Regions from separate parts of the Homo sapiens genome. Here region 1 is linked to region 2. The links come from fine-mapping of genetic effects on gene expression. Tissue or cell type: sun-exposed skin. Region 2 holds a variant in brackets; the other region holds the start of a gene. All regions are shown on one strand. Distances are between the middles of the regions.

What was found. PIP is the estimated chance that this variant, and not a neighbour inherited with it, causes the effect.
Region 1: PAK6-AS1 starts here. The variant in region 2 is fine-mapped to the expression of PAK6-AS1 in sun-exposed skin (GTEx, PIP above 0.99).

What each region holds. Positions count from the first base shown.
Region 1 is chr15:40,250,264-40,256,645 of GRCh38, reverse strand. It overlaps PAK6-AS1 (PAK6 antisense RNA 1), which reads left to right and starts at 3,687. Exons shown (of 2, transcript NR_168270.1): 1 at 3,687-3,988; 2 at 4,107-5,982. BUB1B-PAK6 (BUB1B-PAK6 readthrough) reads right to left here. Exons shown (of 10, transcript NM_001128629.3): 2 at 3,357-3,468. It overlaps PAK6 (p21 (RAC1) activated kinase 6), which reads right to left. Exons shown (of 11, transcript NM_001395430.1): 3 at 3,357-3,468. RefSeq lists enhancers at 1-27, 101-150 and a silencer at 3,616-3,705.
Region 2 is chr15:39,399,100-39,407,038 of GRCh38, reverse strand. The region is part of intron 1 of LOC105370777 (a long non-coding RNA gene); the gene reads left to right. Among named protein-coding and RNA genes, the nearest start is that of LINC02915, 150 kb to the right of the region's middle. The variant A/G (reference allele first, on the strand shown) is at 3,848.

The DNA of each region.
Region 1 (6,382 bases), 850 kb before region 2:
GGCCATCTGCTCCTACCACCACCCTCTGTTATTCTCAGGCCCATCCAAGACACTCTGGGGAAGGGCCTATCCTAGAATCACAGCCCCAAGACAGAGGTGAGCCCCGAGTGCTACAAAACTTAGGAAAGCACTCTACTACCATCACCAACCTGTCAGAGTGGCCTCCAGAGGACCCTGTCACCTCCAGGGCTGGGCCCTGACATGCTGAGACCTGCAGCAGGGTTTCTTGACCTCTTTGTAACCCCCTTTGGGAACTGTCATCCCACACACATTCTGACAGGTGACAGGCCTCACCTGACCCCTTGGCTGAGAATTACCGCGAACAGAAGACAGCCTTTCACTGGAATATTCTCATTGGCCAGAAGGATTTTTCTCAAACTTTACTTTCAGAAGTTTGTTTCAAAAAAAAAATTTTTTTTTAGAGACAGAGTCTCACTCAGTCGCCCAGGCTGAAATGCAGTGGCGCGATCAGAGCTTACTGCAGCCTCGAACGTCTGGCCTCAACCCACCCTCCCACCTCAGTCGCTTGAGTGGTCAGGACTAGAGGAGCATACCACCGTGCCCAGCTGGGAAATTATAGTATTCCTTTATTCAGAAAGTATCTATTATGGACCTACTCTACTCCAGGCTCTGGGGACCATGGTAAACGAGAGGAAATCCTCACTCCTGTGTGGTTTAGTTTGCTTCTTCCAAACAGGTGTTGCTCTAGGCCAACCTTCTGCAGCCAGAAGAGATGGTAGTGCAGGATCTGTGGCACTCCTGACGGGGTCTGACCTTCCCCTTGGCCCAAAGTTCAGTCCCTCTGGCATTCCCAACAGGAGGCTGCCCGCACTCTGCTAGAACTCATTCAGCGATGAAAAGCTCCCCCTGCAGCCCCTGCCTTCTGTCCCCTCTGTCCCCTCGCTGATCCTTGTGTGGAGCTGAACTCTGTCTCACCTCAGCCTCTACTGGGGTCCGAGTCTGCCATCTGCTCCTCTTCACGTGACTTGAGAGTCAGGAGAGGTGGCACCCCAGCACCCTATCCTGGCTCCCAAAATACACGGGGGAAGGAAATTTCATCTGCTTTTCTGCTCAGCTGTCACCTGCGGGGGAGGAGGGTCCTAGACGCAGGTTGTGGCCCTCATGTGGATGCCCACAAGATTCAAACAACCTGCTCAGGGTCAGTGTGCTGAAGTGCGGAGAGGCCCTGGGAGGATGAGCAGGACCCTGAGGCTCTGCTGTCCCACTTGAGGGACCCAGACAGATGCAGCATGGGCCAGGGCAGACAGCATGACATGCAACCTGCCAAAATGTTTGGGCTCTCTGCCTTTGTCACTATTCCCATACCACTGGCCCCAGTGAATCCCCAGGGGAGAGATAATGGGCTGCTGTTTAAAAGAATACAGTAATACAGCTCATTCAGTCACTTGTGTCAACAGGCGTGAGCCACCGCGCCCGGCCTACCCTAGATTCTCAACAGCCTCTGCACACAGAGGTCTGAGTCCTTAGCATAGGGTCCTCAATGCCTAGCTAGGACCCTATGCTAAGCATTGGAACCTCTGGCATTGGAACCCTATGCTAAGCAGAAGGAACCTCTGGCATCCCTAATCACAAGATTGCCTTTTTTTCTACAGCTCTTAACTTTCCAGACCTCTATTTCACCTCCTTAACACTCACAACTTTACACTCACAACACCATTGTGAGTTGGGCTGAACCTGCTTTCCTGGGCCCATTTTAAAGACAGCAGGGAGCTGGAGAGAGAAGGAGGAGGCAAGAAAAGAAAGGTATGCTTATAAAGTGCCCACCACATGGATAGACTGTGCTAGGTGCTTTTTATTAGTACATCTAATGGCTAATTGTAGCTACTGCGAGCTCTGTTTTACAGATGAAGAAACTGAGGCTCAGAGAGAAGTAATTGTCCAAGACAGTAAGTGTGGAGCTGGGATTCAAAGTCAGATCTCTCCGACTCCAAACTCCAGGCTCATCCACAATGCCCAGTGCCCAGAGAAGTCAAGTGACCTGCTCTGGATCACACAGCTATGCAGAACAGAGATGGGACTGGAAGCTCAAGCCAGAGGCTCCCTCTATCCCAGGCAACAGTTGAGGTTCCAGGGTCACCCATGAACACATGAACATGTGTGATGTGCAGGGGGCGCTGCTGTTTCTGATGCCCAAGCCAGATCCTCTTCCAGGAATGGCCCCTTCCCTGGGTCACCACGAGGTCCAGAGACCCTGAATTAGGGTCTCTCACTACTCGCCCTCCAAGGACCCCTACCTTTACTTTATTCCTATTGCTTTGCTCTAATACCCTCTGACAATAGCTTGCCAAACAGCCAGACTGCCCTCAAAGCTCTCCAGGATGGGAGAACTTGGAGTGGCTTAGCCCTTCCCAACATAGCAGCTGGAGGCTGATGAGGCAGTTACTCCCCACAACCGCCTAATGAGGAGGAAGGCATTCGCATTCCCATTTTACAGATGAGGCCATTTATAAGTTTGTAGAGAAGTGAAGCAACTTGTCTAAGGAGTCAAAGGCAAAGTCTGGATAGATTCAAACCCCACTCTCTTCGGTTCCAAATGTGTCTTCGGCCACTGTCCTATATACTATGGAGGAGAATTCATGGCACTGCAGGCTGAACCTCACCTTGCATGGAACCAGGCGTTTTCTTATCCAATGCGGCAACCTATGCCACACCGGCCACCAAAAACGAGCATGGACACAGACCTGAGCCCCTCTGCCCCCTTCACCCAGAAAAACAAGTCAGAAAAGCCCCCAAAAAACCACCAGAATGGGGCAAGATACAGAAAACGCAACCTACACCCTGGGAGCTCTTCATGGCTTAGCCTCCAGTGCTCCCAGCAGCACCTACACTCCAGATCGGATGCCACCTGAGCAGGTCTGGAGATCTGGGGAATGAGCGGTGGGCTGGGATGTGTGGAGCGGCAGCTTCACCTGTAACTCCTGCGGGAGTCTCCCACGGCTGCCTCCCACCCTGCCCTGCACAGCCACTGGGCCTGCCACCACCCTTCCTGTTTGGGAACCTCTTCCCCGGCATGAATTCCCTGCACTCTGCCGCGGTGACACCCTCACCCAGGACAGGCATCAGACCTGAAGATGGGCCCGGGGGCAGGGCGGGCCATTTGAGGTCTTGACGTCTACCAGCCTACCGTGGGGCCATGGGGCAAAGTGGTGTAAGTGACTTAACATGCACCCACTAAGGATCGAGAGACGGCACCTGGAAGGGACCACCTCCGCTGCCTAGCAGTACCAGGAAGGAGCCAGCCCAGGAGGGCCACCTGCCTGCCCACTGTCCCTCCCTGCCTGCTCTTCAAAATGGGTGCAGAAGGCTCTAGGGCCGGGGGCCGCTCGCTCACTCACCTTCCGGCGCCTTCCGCCTCTTCCTCGCGACTCCTCACCCGCACTGGGCCTCTCTCTTAGGCGCTGAGGAGAGGGAAGACCTGGGACCTTGCTGGGCCAGTCCTCCGCAGGCCTGCGCGGAAACAGATCAGAAATGCATTATGGCAAATGTAGCAAGTGTTCCCGCGGGTGTTGCGACTGGCTGACGTCCAGGCGCTGGGAACCGCTCCGCGCCCGCCTCCCGACTGAACTCCTGGCTCAGGTGCAAGAGGCGGCAGGCTCCTTGCGGGGCTTACGGGGAGAAGGGGACGTTGGGCGCAGCACCGCTTCCGGGGCGGCCCCTCTCCAGCCACACTCCGACCCGGCGCGGCCACCCGGCCCCAGCTCGCAGGCCCCACTGCTGCGCCCTCTCGGGGACGCGAATGCCCCGCGCCGGGCGGGCGCCCGCGGAGGGAGGTCCCGCTCCAGGGACGCGGAGCTCCAGATGCCTGCGCCCAAGGCCCCTCGCCTGGCGCCGGCTGGTCCCGAACTTCGGGGCATGGGCACCCAGGAAGGGGGCTGCGCGTGTTGGGAGGCCCGTCCTCTCGCCGCGAACCTCCGGGGCAGCCGGGGAACCCACCTGCGGAGCGGGAAGCCCAGGAACGCTCGAAGAGGTCGTGGGAGCCGGGCCCGCCCTCCGCGGGAGGGACCTCGGCGCGGGAACGCCGAGGAGGGGCCGCGCTTACACGTTGGTGCAGCGCCGGCTTCACCTGACCGCGATTTTGATTTCAGGGTGTGGCCTCAGGTAGGACGCGGCGGCGAACCCAGAGCGCGGGAGAAGTTGCCAAGTGTCGCTGGGGCCTTGGCCAGGAGCCCCTCTGCCCGAGGGGCGCCGTGCTGCTCAACTCTTTCTCTCCACCTGCTTGGCCCCAGTTCCCGCCCGCCCTTCGCCTCCGGGCCCTGGCCTGGCCACAGCCGCGGGGACCTGCCTGCGGCTCCACGGCCCAGTGGCCGCCTCGCGGAGACCCGACCTGGAGAATCAGCTGAGCGCCGGCTGTGTGTAATCACCTCGTTCACTGGCATCGCAGATGCACGCTCCAGAGCCGCGGGCCGACTCTCCCGGACCTGAGCGGGCCGCGTGTGCCCACCCACACATCCTGGAGAGCCCACGCGGGAGTCGGAAAACCTGTCACCTTGGATGATCTGTCCCATGTGGACAGGGCCCCAAGACTGTGCTGGGGTAGCCCCTTGCGCAGGCAGGAAAGCGGGATTTAAGGGATTCCAGTTCCCTTGTCAGCCCTTGCGCAGTCCTGAGTCCTGAGGACTTTCTAGCCTGAGAGTCCTAGGGCAGGAGACCCGCACCCCCAGAGCGGCTAGGGCCTGTTTCGGAGCCCCTCCGCCTGTGATTTTGTCCCAGAGTCGGCATCCTCTGCTTGTCCTCAGCAGTCCCTGCCTAAGATCAGAATGGCCATTCCAAGGGGCTCACTCCTGGCTGCCCCTGTGCCATGTTTCTTTTGGGGTACAGGGTGTTTTCTATACTGGGGGAAGGGACAGGAATCACTCATCTCTTCCCCAGATAAAGAAGTGAGAAGACCTTTGCTCTCCTTGTCTTGGGCCCCCAGAGAAAGGCTGTGTTCTGGCTGAGTGCTGAGGAAGTTCTGGCTTGGAAACTCAGTACATGTGGACTCCAAATGGCTGCCGTCAAGTGGTGGCTGGGTGACTGCCAGTGTCACAGAGCGGGGACCAAGGACAGTGCAGGGATTTTAAAAATCATTGTTGGGCACCTCAGACTTCAATGATTAACTGAGGTCACTATGGCCACTTATTTTTGTTCACTGATTCTTTAGACGCATCAATCTACTCACGGCTCAATCTTTTGCATTATAGGCTGTATTGGTTTCACACAATTTACTCTAAGGCGCCCACCTAATAGAGCTCAGGCAACCCGTGGGAACCTGACAGTCCCAAACAGGTCTGTACCCTGTGTGGCTGCACCACAAGCCCAATGCCCTCGGCTTTCCTAGGGAAAGCATGGTGCCAGGTGCAGATGCTGGCCCTCTGTGCTGTGGGACAGTGGTGTGGGAGCCAGCCAGCTAACCATACCCTGCTGCCATCCCCAACATCCCCAACACATATTTATATTTAGTTTCTGTTCTCCTCCCCTTACTCTGTCGCCTCCTCCTCCTCCTCTTTGTGTCTTTCCCACGCGGATTCTTTCTCTTTCCTCTGAGTGGACAATACTGTAGGCCTGACCCGCTTAGACAAACTCTGACCTCCTGTGGTCACCCAGGAAGCTGACTGCTAGGCCTTGGATGAGGGGGCAGTGGGAGGGGGACCAGGTGATACCAGAATGGCTCCCCCCACAGATTCGTTACCCAAGGACATGGGTACACTGGTCGAATGCTGGCTGCAGAAGCAGAATGTGCTGCGTGGAGGTGGCAGAGATTGGTTGCTGAGGATTTGAAATGAACCATGAACCAAAGCTAGAATGAAAGCATTATATTGTCTAACCTAGAATCGACACCCTAAATTATTTTTACTGATTCATGAATGCATATGTGAATTATTTTCTTTGACTACAAATGCCTTATATACCCAAATCACAGCTCCAAGCAGTACTTTTGAACAGAACTACAATAAAGTATGAATGTTAGATTATTACCAGAAATGAACTGGTATTCAATTTGGTTTGAATCCAGGCTTAGGTACCCTAGAATGGCGACTAGCCAAGTCCCATCCTCACCCTATAGAGAATAACTCTAGGAAACCCTGGGTTCCTCCCACCCCTTGGGAGCTACAGTGGGTTTGGGGCCTTGAGAGAGGCAGAAGGTCAAGTTAGACTGACCAAGGAGGTAATGAGTCCCCCATCACTGGAGGTATTCAAGAATAACCGTCAGTTGGGTAGGCCAGAGAACTGGATACAAGACTAGACTAGGGAATCCCTCAGGTCCATCACAACGCCAGTTTTCTGCACTTCCAGTCTCGTCTACATGAGGTTCAGCTGCACCGGGTTGCACGATCCGCCCCGTTGCCACCCCTCTCCCCACACATTGAGACAGCTGGGGATA
Region 2 (7,939 bases):
ATATGTTCTTTCTAAAGGTCCAGTTAGATGACTTGTATTATCTCTGATAGGTGACAATGGAACTTAAAGCACCAGCCAAGTAAATCTGGTGAGGGGGCAATTGGGGTATCATCTAGGAAGCTGAGACAAAAATGAGGGAAAAGAGGGACACTGTCTTACGTTATATGAATTAGCTGCATGTTTTGGGTTGAACTTAGCATTTTATTTATTTGAGCGTTAATACACTTAAAAATACCCATTTCAGTGCCTGTTATATTCTAGAAATTGTACTTGGTGCTAGATTTACAACAGAACAAGAAAGATGTGGTTCCTCTTTGCATAGAGCCATGGTCTAGTGGCTAGAAGTGTAGCCACAAGAGACCACGAGATCATCTAGTACAAACCACCTCATTTTACGTATTAGAAAATGGAAGCACTGAGATGGGAAGGAAATCGCCCTTTGTTACAGCTGATGAGTAGCAGAGCCAGAATTCTAACTTGGCTCTTAGGACTCACAGCCCAATTACCTGGTTAAATTAACAAAGTGAATTAATGCAGGTCTGCAGACATTACGGCTACAACCCCCTCAACAGTCTCCTGTCTGTGGCCTAAAAGTCTCTGCCCTTCCCCTAGCCTCACAGATACCAGATAGGGACATAAATATCAAGGTGAATTTTAGCTGTGATGTTAAATTAGATCATATTCCTGTGTGATGAAGAAGCAGAGTGATGGAGCATTGTTCCCTTTGGGTGAAAGTCGTCTTCTCCCTCTACCCCTCAGTGCATTTCTGGGCCTGCCTGGGCAGAGAATTTTGGCCAACTACTGGATTTTTGTTAAAAATGATAATTAAAGAGGGAGCAGGAAGGGAGTACGTTCCAATATGATCCAGAAGAGTCAGCACTTGCTCTGGATAATAAATTCTTTATGCTTCAGGTTATTACTTAACCTGTGTTTCAGGTTCCCTTCTGGAATCAATAAAGGGACATTCTCAATCTGTGGATTTAATGACTGACTTCTTGCTTATAGAGCTAATACGTTAGAACCACAGGAAGGTAGGTGGTGGTCTGGAATCATCCACAGTGTGTACGCTCCTGCTCTTTGTAGGACTCTTGCAGGCAACTTTTAACCTTCTTTCAAGATTGTCTTTAATAGAGATCCATATTTCTGGAATTTTCTAGAAAATAAGAGTTTTAAGAATGTAGTGGGAGTTTTTAGACTGGTTTTATATGACATTGGACATGCATTTTAATATGGAATGCTGGGGTTGTTCCTGTAGGCCTCCCAAAGTCACAAAAAGAAGCATCCTTCCTCAAGGCTCCCGACACATTTCATTGATGGTCTTAGCCTGTGTGTGGTGCCCACCCTATGGTGAACCCAGGGCTCCTGCAATGACTCGACTGCAGCTGCCATTCTCTTCCTTTCTCTCCCATTCAAGGAAGCATATGACCATGTTTCCCAAACTTGTTTTACCTGGAACCTTTTATTTTTTTTCAGGGATTCCCTATTAATAATTCGTGGCACTATTCTGTAGAATAAAACTTGGGAAACAGTGACATATAGACAGGAAAATGAGTGAATGCAATGATGTTGCAGGGCTAATCTCACCACAGTTCAATTTATTAAAGCAAAATGTGTAATTCCTCAAATTCTGTACTTTAATTTGTATTGATAATCCAGCGCTGGAGTTAACATAGATTTCAGGAGTGAACAGAATGCTGGTTCTATTCCCTTGGTTCTGGCTTGAGAAGGGGCTGAAGAAAATGGTGAGCCCACTCAACTGAGGGTAGTGTCTACTTCTGCCCCAGAGAATTTGTCCCAGGGAGGATGCAGCTCAGAACAGCAGGTTTTTCTTAAGTGTGTACTTTCATTGATGCCTCATTTCTGGTCAGCGTGAGGGGAAAAGCGGCAAAAAGATAGTCACTCAAGTTAGTCATGTTGGGAAACTTATCTGTTTTAGGCAGTGGTTCCTCTCAGCAAGGGGTGGAAGATATGTGGTCCAGCCTCAGGCTAAAGCCGTTTCCCAGTACTATCACTAATACTAGTCCTGTGCTATTTCCAGCTCCAGCTCGTCATTTGTCTATTGGCTTGCGAAACTACCATCTAAGAGGGCAAAAGCATTTCTACTGCCTTGGGCCATTTCCTTCTGACATTCTTTACTGATGACCTCTGAAGCAGCTATGATCACTTCTTGGCATGTCAGACCATCATCTATTGGCTCTTTGTCTCACCAGAAACAGGCCAGCCCCAGCTGGTCCAAGCAATATGAGTGTGGGTTAACTTCAGGGATACAGGGTCCTGGGCTGGTTCCCAGCTGGTCTGCATTTAACAAAGCAAAATTGGGAGTTGTGATGATCTGGAGGTGTTCTGAAGGGGTGAACTGGTGGAATTACAAATTACTTAGTTCATTCCCTGCCCTCTAGTAGAAATGAATCTAAACTAATCCAGACTGGTAAGAAGGATAGACACAGTATTAAAGGCCTATTGCAAAGAAGATGCTATAGCTACTTTCCTTCATTTTGGTGACCCCAAACTTTGATGTTTCTTGGTGATGGAAGAACCATGACTGTCCCTCTTCCATAGAATTTTCCTTAGGGTCCACTGAATTCATGTACACATGCACACGCACACACACACACTCACACAGTTTACTATTACCATTAGGGACTGTGGTGCATGTGGCTGTGTGCTGAGGGAAGAAAAAAAATGCATAATAGCCTGCCTCCAAAAAAATGTATCAGATATAAAACATATGCAAAGACACATATGATAAGAACCATGTGAGTATGGACCATGAGTTAGATTTATGAGTGTGGGGTATTGTGAAGGAGGTGCATCTGCAGCTGAGAATCACAATACAACAACAACAACAACTACTACTACTACTTTTTAACATTTATTAAACAGTTGCTAAATTCCTGGTATGGTTTTAAATACCTTGACACACTCTTCTAAGTGCTTCATATATGTGTTTAATCATCACATTCCTCGAAGGAAGACAGAGGAGGAAATTGAAGCATTTAAGTAACTTGCCCAAGGTCACACAGCTGCCTAAGGGTGGAACTAGATTTAAATCCAAAGCAGTCAGGTTGCACAGCCTTGCTCCTGTCTCCCAAGTATGCTGTCAATAATCGAGGAATTTCAATATGCACAGAGAAGAGCAAAGGCTTTCCTGCTGAGAACAGACTGGTCAGTAAAGGAGTAGGGGTAGTAACGTTTTAGATGGGAGCAGCCTGGCTTGTGGGTGCTTAGTGTAGTGATTGGCACAATGCCTGGAATGGAGTAAGTGCTTGTTTGTTGAATTATAGGAATTTGAGTTATTGACTGAATGGCTAGAGAGAGATAATGTTAGAGAAGTAGGCTGTTATCAAATTGTGTAGGGTTTTGAATTTCAGCTTAAGTGGTTTAAACTTAGTACTGTGGATGATATCTTCTCTACAATGCTGGATTTCTGAAGAGGCCAACACACTAGTCTATAAATGTGCTATTCTATACATTCTTCTTTGCATTTTCTCTTTTTCAGTGCTTTGTATACAATTGCTAGAAAAAAATGGAAACCATGCTAATCGAGCCTATTACCAAATGCTTGCTAAATTTTGCTATTTAACTATAGAAGTTATATGTTAGCTTTAACTTGACAAGTCAGTCTTTGCTTGTGATGCCCATAGCCCCTTCTAAATATATGCTAATGGACAAGTCTTTAGGTAACCCAGTTATATATGGTGTGACCCTACTCTCTCTGGCTTCTGTGGGCATCATGACATGACAATGCACTTGCTTTTTAAATATCAAGAATATGGAAGCATTAGCAGTGGATGTAGAAACTGGAAGATTATGCTGAAGAGAATAGTCAAAGAGGACACAAAGAACT[A/G]CATGTATAGTGAAATTATGAGGGAGTAGAGGTAATACATAGGGAGAAATTATTTTATGTATCTTGAGCCCAGACGTTTTGATTTCAAATTCAGTTCTGGATGCTTCCTGAAATTTTCTATAAAGTTAAAAGTCCTCCCACCCCTTTTCAATATTCATTCTCCTTGACTTTTCTGCTGCATTTTACATAATTGCTTGTTCACTTTTTTTGGAAACCCTTTCTACTGAAATGCGATATTCTCCTGGGTCTTCCCCCTTCCGCTACTGCCCCTATTCTCTTCTTAAGCACCTTTCCTTCTATGCTCAAGCCTTTGATGAAACACATTTCTTTTCTGACTTTCCCTCTGCATAATGTTATCCATGGCCAGGCTTTAAACCCTCATCACTTTTCATATGTGCCCCAAAGTATGCAGACAACAGAGACATCTTTTCCAAGCTATCATGGGAGGGCTCCCATTTCTAGTTCTTTGCACAGTGCTTCCAACTGGATAACACTAAATCAAGAACGTTCCATGTAGTTCCGTGGATGCCCCCTTGGTTCAAGACTTTATTACCTTTTACCTGGCATCTTTATTCCCAAAGGATTTTATATGCTGCTGCCAGATGAATCCTTAAATCACAGCTGTGATTCTGTCACTGAAGATTTTGGGTCCTAAATCTTCAGTGACTCCTGATCTACCAGAAAAAATTTACATTCCTTAACATCATACTTCAGTGCATCTTCAATATGGTTCCACCAGACGATGCCAGAATATCTATGTGTTGATGCTTTTGCAAGTAGAATCCTTCCTATTCCTCCTGTAGCTTTTGAAATTCTATTGGTTTTCTCCAAATTTCCAGAGTGCTGCCTCTTTGATAAAGCATCAGCCATTCTAAGTGGAATTGATATATCTTTTTTCCAAATGTCATGAGGTTATTATTATTTTTTGTTGTTGTTTGTAATTCAGTTAAGGCAATATTATAAGCTTATTGAATATTTATTTTACTTTCCCTGTGATAGCACTAATTTGAATTTGGCTGTTATACAGTTGTCAAAGCTCCCTATGTATGGCCTGCTTGCTCTCAAACCCTGGCCTTTCCCTGCTCTGTTCTGTATCACAGGGGCCGACCTTAGGGCTAAGCTGCCCAGACTTTTGTGTCAACTGGTTTCGCACCGGGTGGTAACAATGGCAGGTGCTAGCATGAGAAACCAGGGTCTTCTCCCACTCCCTTCTGGCTTTTGGAAGCTGTGTCAATGGAGCTGTATCTCTTTTGAGACTCCACCTTGCAGCTGACAGTTCCAGCCTCTAATGGTGGTCCCTGCCCTTGGGTTCTGGGAGCACAGTCTCCTGTTTTCCTGCCTAGGGATGACAGTGGCACCTGCTCTTGTTTATTTCTGGGCTCCTTGTTCTTGCAACACATGTATAATCAATTCCCATATATTAAATTTCTTTTATTTTGAAATACAAATGGTTTCTGCTTTTCTAGGATAGGTGATGATGAATGCACTCCCCTTCTAATTTTCACACCAGATGCTGTCTTATTCTTACACATGTGCCATGGTGCCTGGTTCTGTGATTTGCATACTGTAGGTGCCAAAAAATATTCAATAAATTCATAAGTGGAGGAATATTGCTGTTTAAAAATAGCTGTTAATTTTTAGAGAAATTACTCAGAAAAACTTAGGAGGCACTAACTATATTAGTTGCCAAGGAGCAATACCAAAAAAACAAAAAATTGAAGACAACATCCCTGTCATCGAATATTTAAAAGGCTACTGGAAGATTTAAAAAGGACATTCAATTTTGCAATAGAAAATTTAGTGGACTGGAAAATATCTACTTAAAATATTTCTTTGTCATGTTTTCTTTTCCTGAGCATTGAGGAATGCTTGTGAAGTTACGGGGCTTGAATTGTTCTTAAAATTAGCTATCCAGTGTCTTTTTCTAATCCCAAATATCGGTATTCTCCACTTTGGCCCTAGGAGATTAGGAGGGTGTTAAAATGGTTACTGTGTTACATATTACATTGATTTTGAGTGTTTTATTTCTTGAGGTCCTTGAACCAACAAGAACTCATGTGTTCTCTGAGTCACTGTCATCGCCACTGCTCTGTAGGTTTCCCACTCCCAAGAGCTGCGATAACAGGGATGACTATACAGCAATGTGTGGGTTGCAGCTGGAGTAACAAGCCAGCACTTTCAGACCCATCCTCATGGCAAAGGAAGGTGGATTTGTGCTTTAAGTTATTAATGGAATTCCCTACTCTGCCTTTGGACTGACTCATGGCCTTGAACCTTCTCTCCCCGTTTTAATTTCCTCACTCTTAAGAAAGTACACGAGTGATGGAAAGAATTCTGTTAGAAAATGACTTGATAGAATACAGAATGAGCTCCGAGGGAGGGAGAATTTAACCACTGCCATAGATAGGTGCTGCCACACAAAGTTGTTGTGAGAAGTAATTAGTCTGGCGGATCTGGGGAAGAATGTTGATTTGTTGAATCAACAATTATTTATTGGGTACCTACTACATTACCAGTGACAAAGACTTTCCCTTGACCAAAACTTTAGTCAGGCTCCTCTGAGTCCTCTGATTGACCTTGAACTTCCCCCTGTGTCCTTATAGAATCCCATTTGAGCAACAATCCTCCTAAGTCAGGTTAGAAAAAATTCTCCACCCTTGGAATTCCTTGATATCTTATCACCCTGGCCTGCCTTCGGCCATAATCCTATCAAGTTGATTTAGCCAGAAAACCTTTATCCTTGATATTTCCTGTTAGTAATTTTCTATCCACTGCCCCCTGCCCACCTGCTCCTTGGTGATAAAACCTGTCATGTATTTGTTGGAGTCAGAGTTGAGCCAGCCTCTCTCCCCCACTGCAAGACCCCACTGTGGTGGTTTCTATACCTGTAGCCATGTCCCCTGCCCCTTGAATAAAGTTTGCATTACCATCTTTAACAAGTGTTAAATGTGTGGTAGGCCATTGATTGGACTGAGCTCCTGTACCAGGCTCCAAGAGACCAACCAAAATGGAGTCACTCAAGCTAAGGTTCCCTGTCACCGAACTGAAACCTAAGCTGTTTACTTGTAAGATCTGACCTTTGGAGAAATCAGGAGAGATTATAACCAAAACCCTAAGCAGGAAAGTTTTCTGAAAAAATAAGAGATTCACAGCAACCAATCAAAAGAAGCCCAGTCCACCTAAGCCAGCATGTAAAGCAGTCTCCACTGCTTTAACCCGTAAAGGAAAGTAACCTGTAGTAAAATAAAGGAAAGTAACCTGAGGTAACCTGATGTTAACCAATCCAGTTTTTGCATTAGGCTGTTGCCTTGTTCCCGCTCAAGCTACCTTACAAAAACTGACTGTTCTGCCATCTCCAATGGAGCTCCTGTCTATTTTGTAGACTGGATGCTGCCTGGTTCATGAATCACTAGTAAAAGCCAATTAGATCTTTAAAACTCAATTTGTTGAAATTGTGTTCTTTGACACAAGTGTCATGAGTAATTTTTTAATTTAACACCAGTACTGTGGTTGGTAGTAAGAATTCAAAAGAAGTTGCCAACAAGCTTCTGCTTTTATCATAAGAAAATATACTATTCCTGTTTTCCTATTGTTAATCTTTGAAGAAAAAAGATCAGAATGACCTTTTCTGTTTGTTCAGATTCTTGGAGTTGAAAGCAATGGGGAAAAGCACACATTTGGTCTATTGGAGTTAGTATCTCTTACTGCTTTGCATGCAGATGTGGTTATTCATGTAACAATGCATAGTGTCTAAAGTCTCCTTAAAATGTCTGCCTGCATTGACAGGGAACACAGACATTTAAAAATAAGTTAGTTTCCACTTGGGAGGAGGGTCCTGAGGGAGTGAAGTCAGAACCTCTAGCCTGGAAGGCTGGCCTGGTAACAATTTGTTCATTGCTGAGTGTGTCGGAAATCAGCTGGGACTTTAGTTTTAGTAGAACTTTTTTCTTTTTTCTCCCAAAGGAGAATGTGTCCATGACTATTCACCTTAAAGGCATACGGTTTTGATATTAGATATTTCAGAGAGTTTGCTATTCCCCACTGCAGAGAAACCTGAGCTGCCCTGATCATGAGAATAGTAGGCTTAGCTCA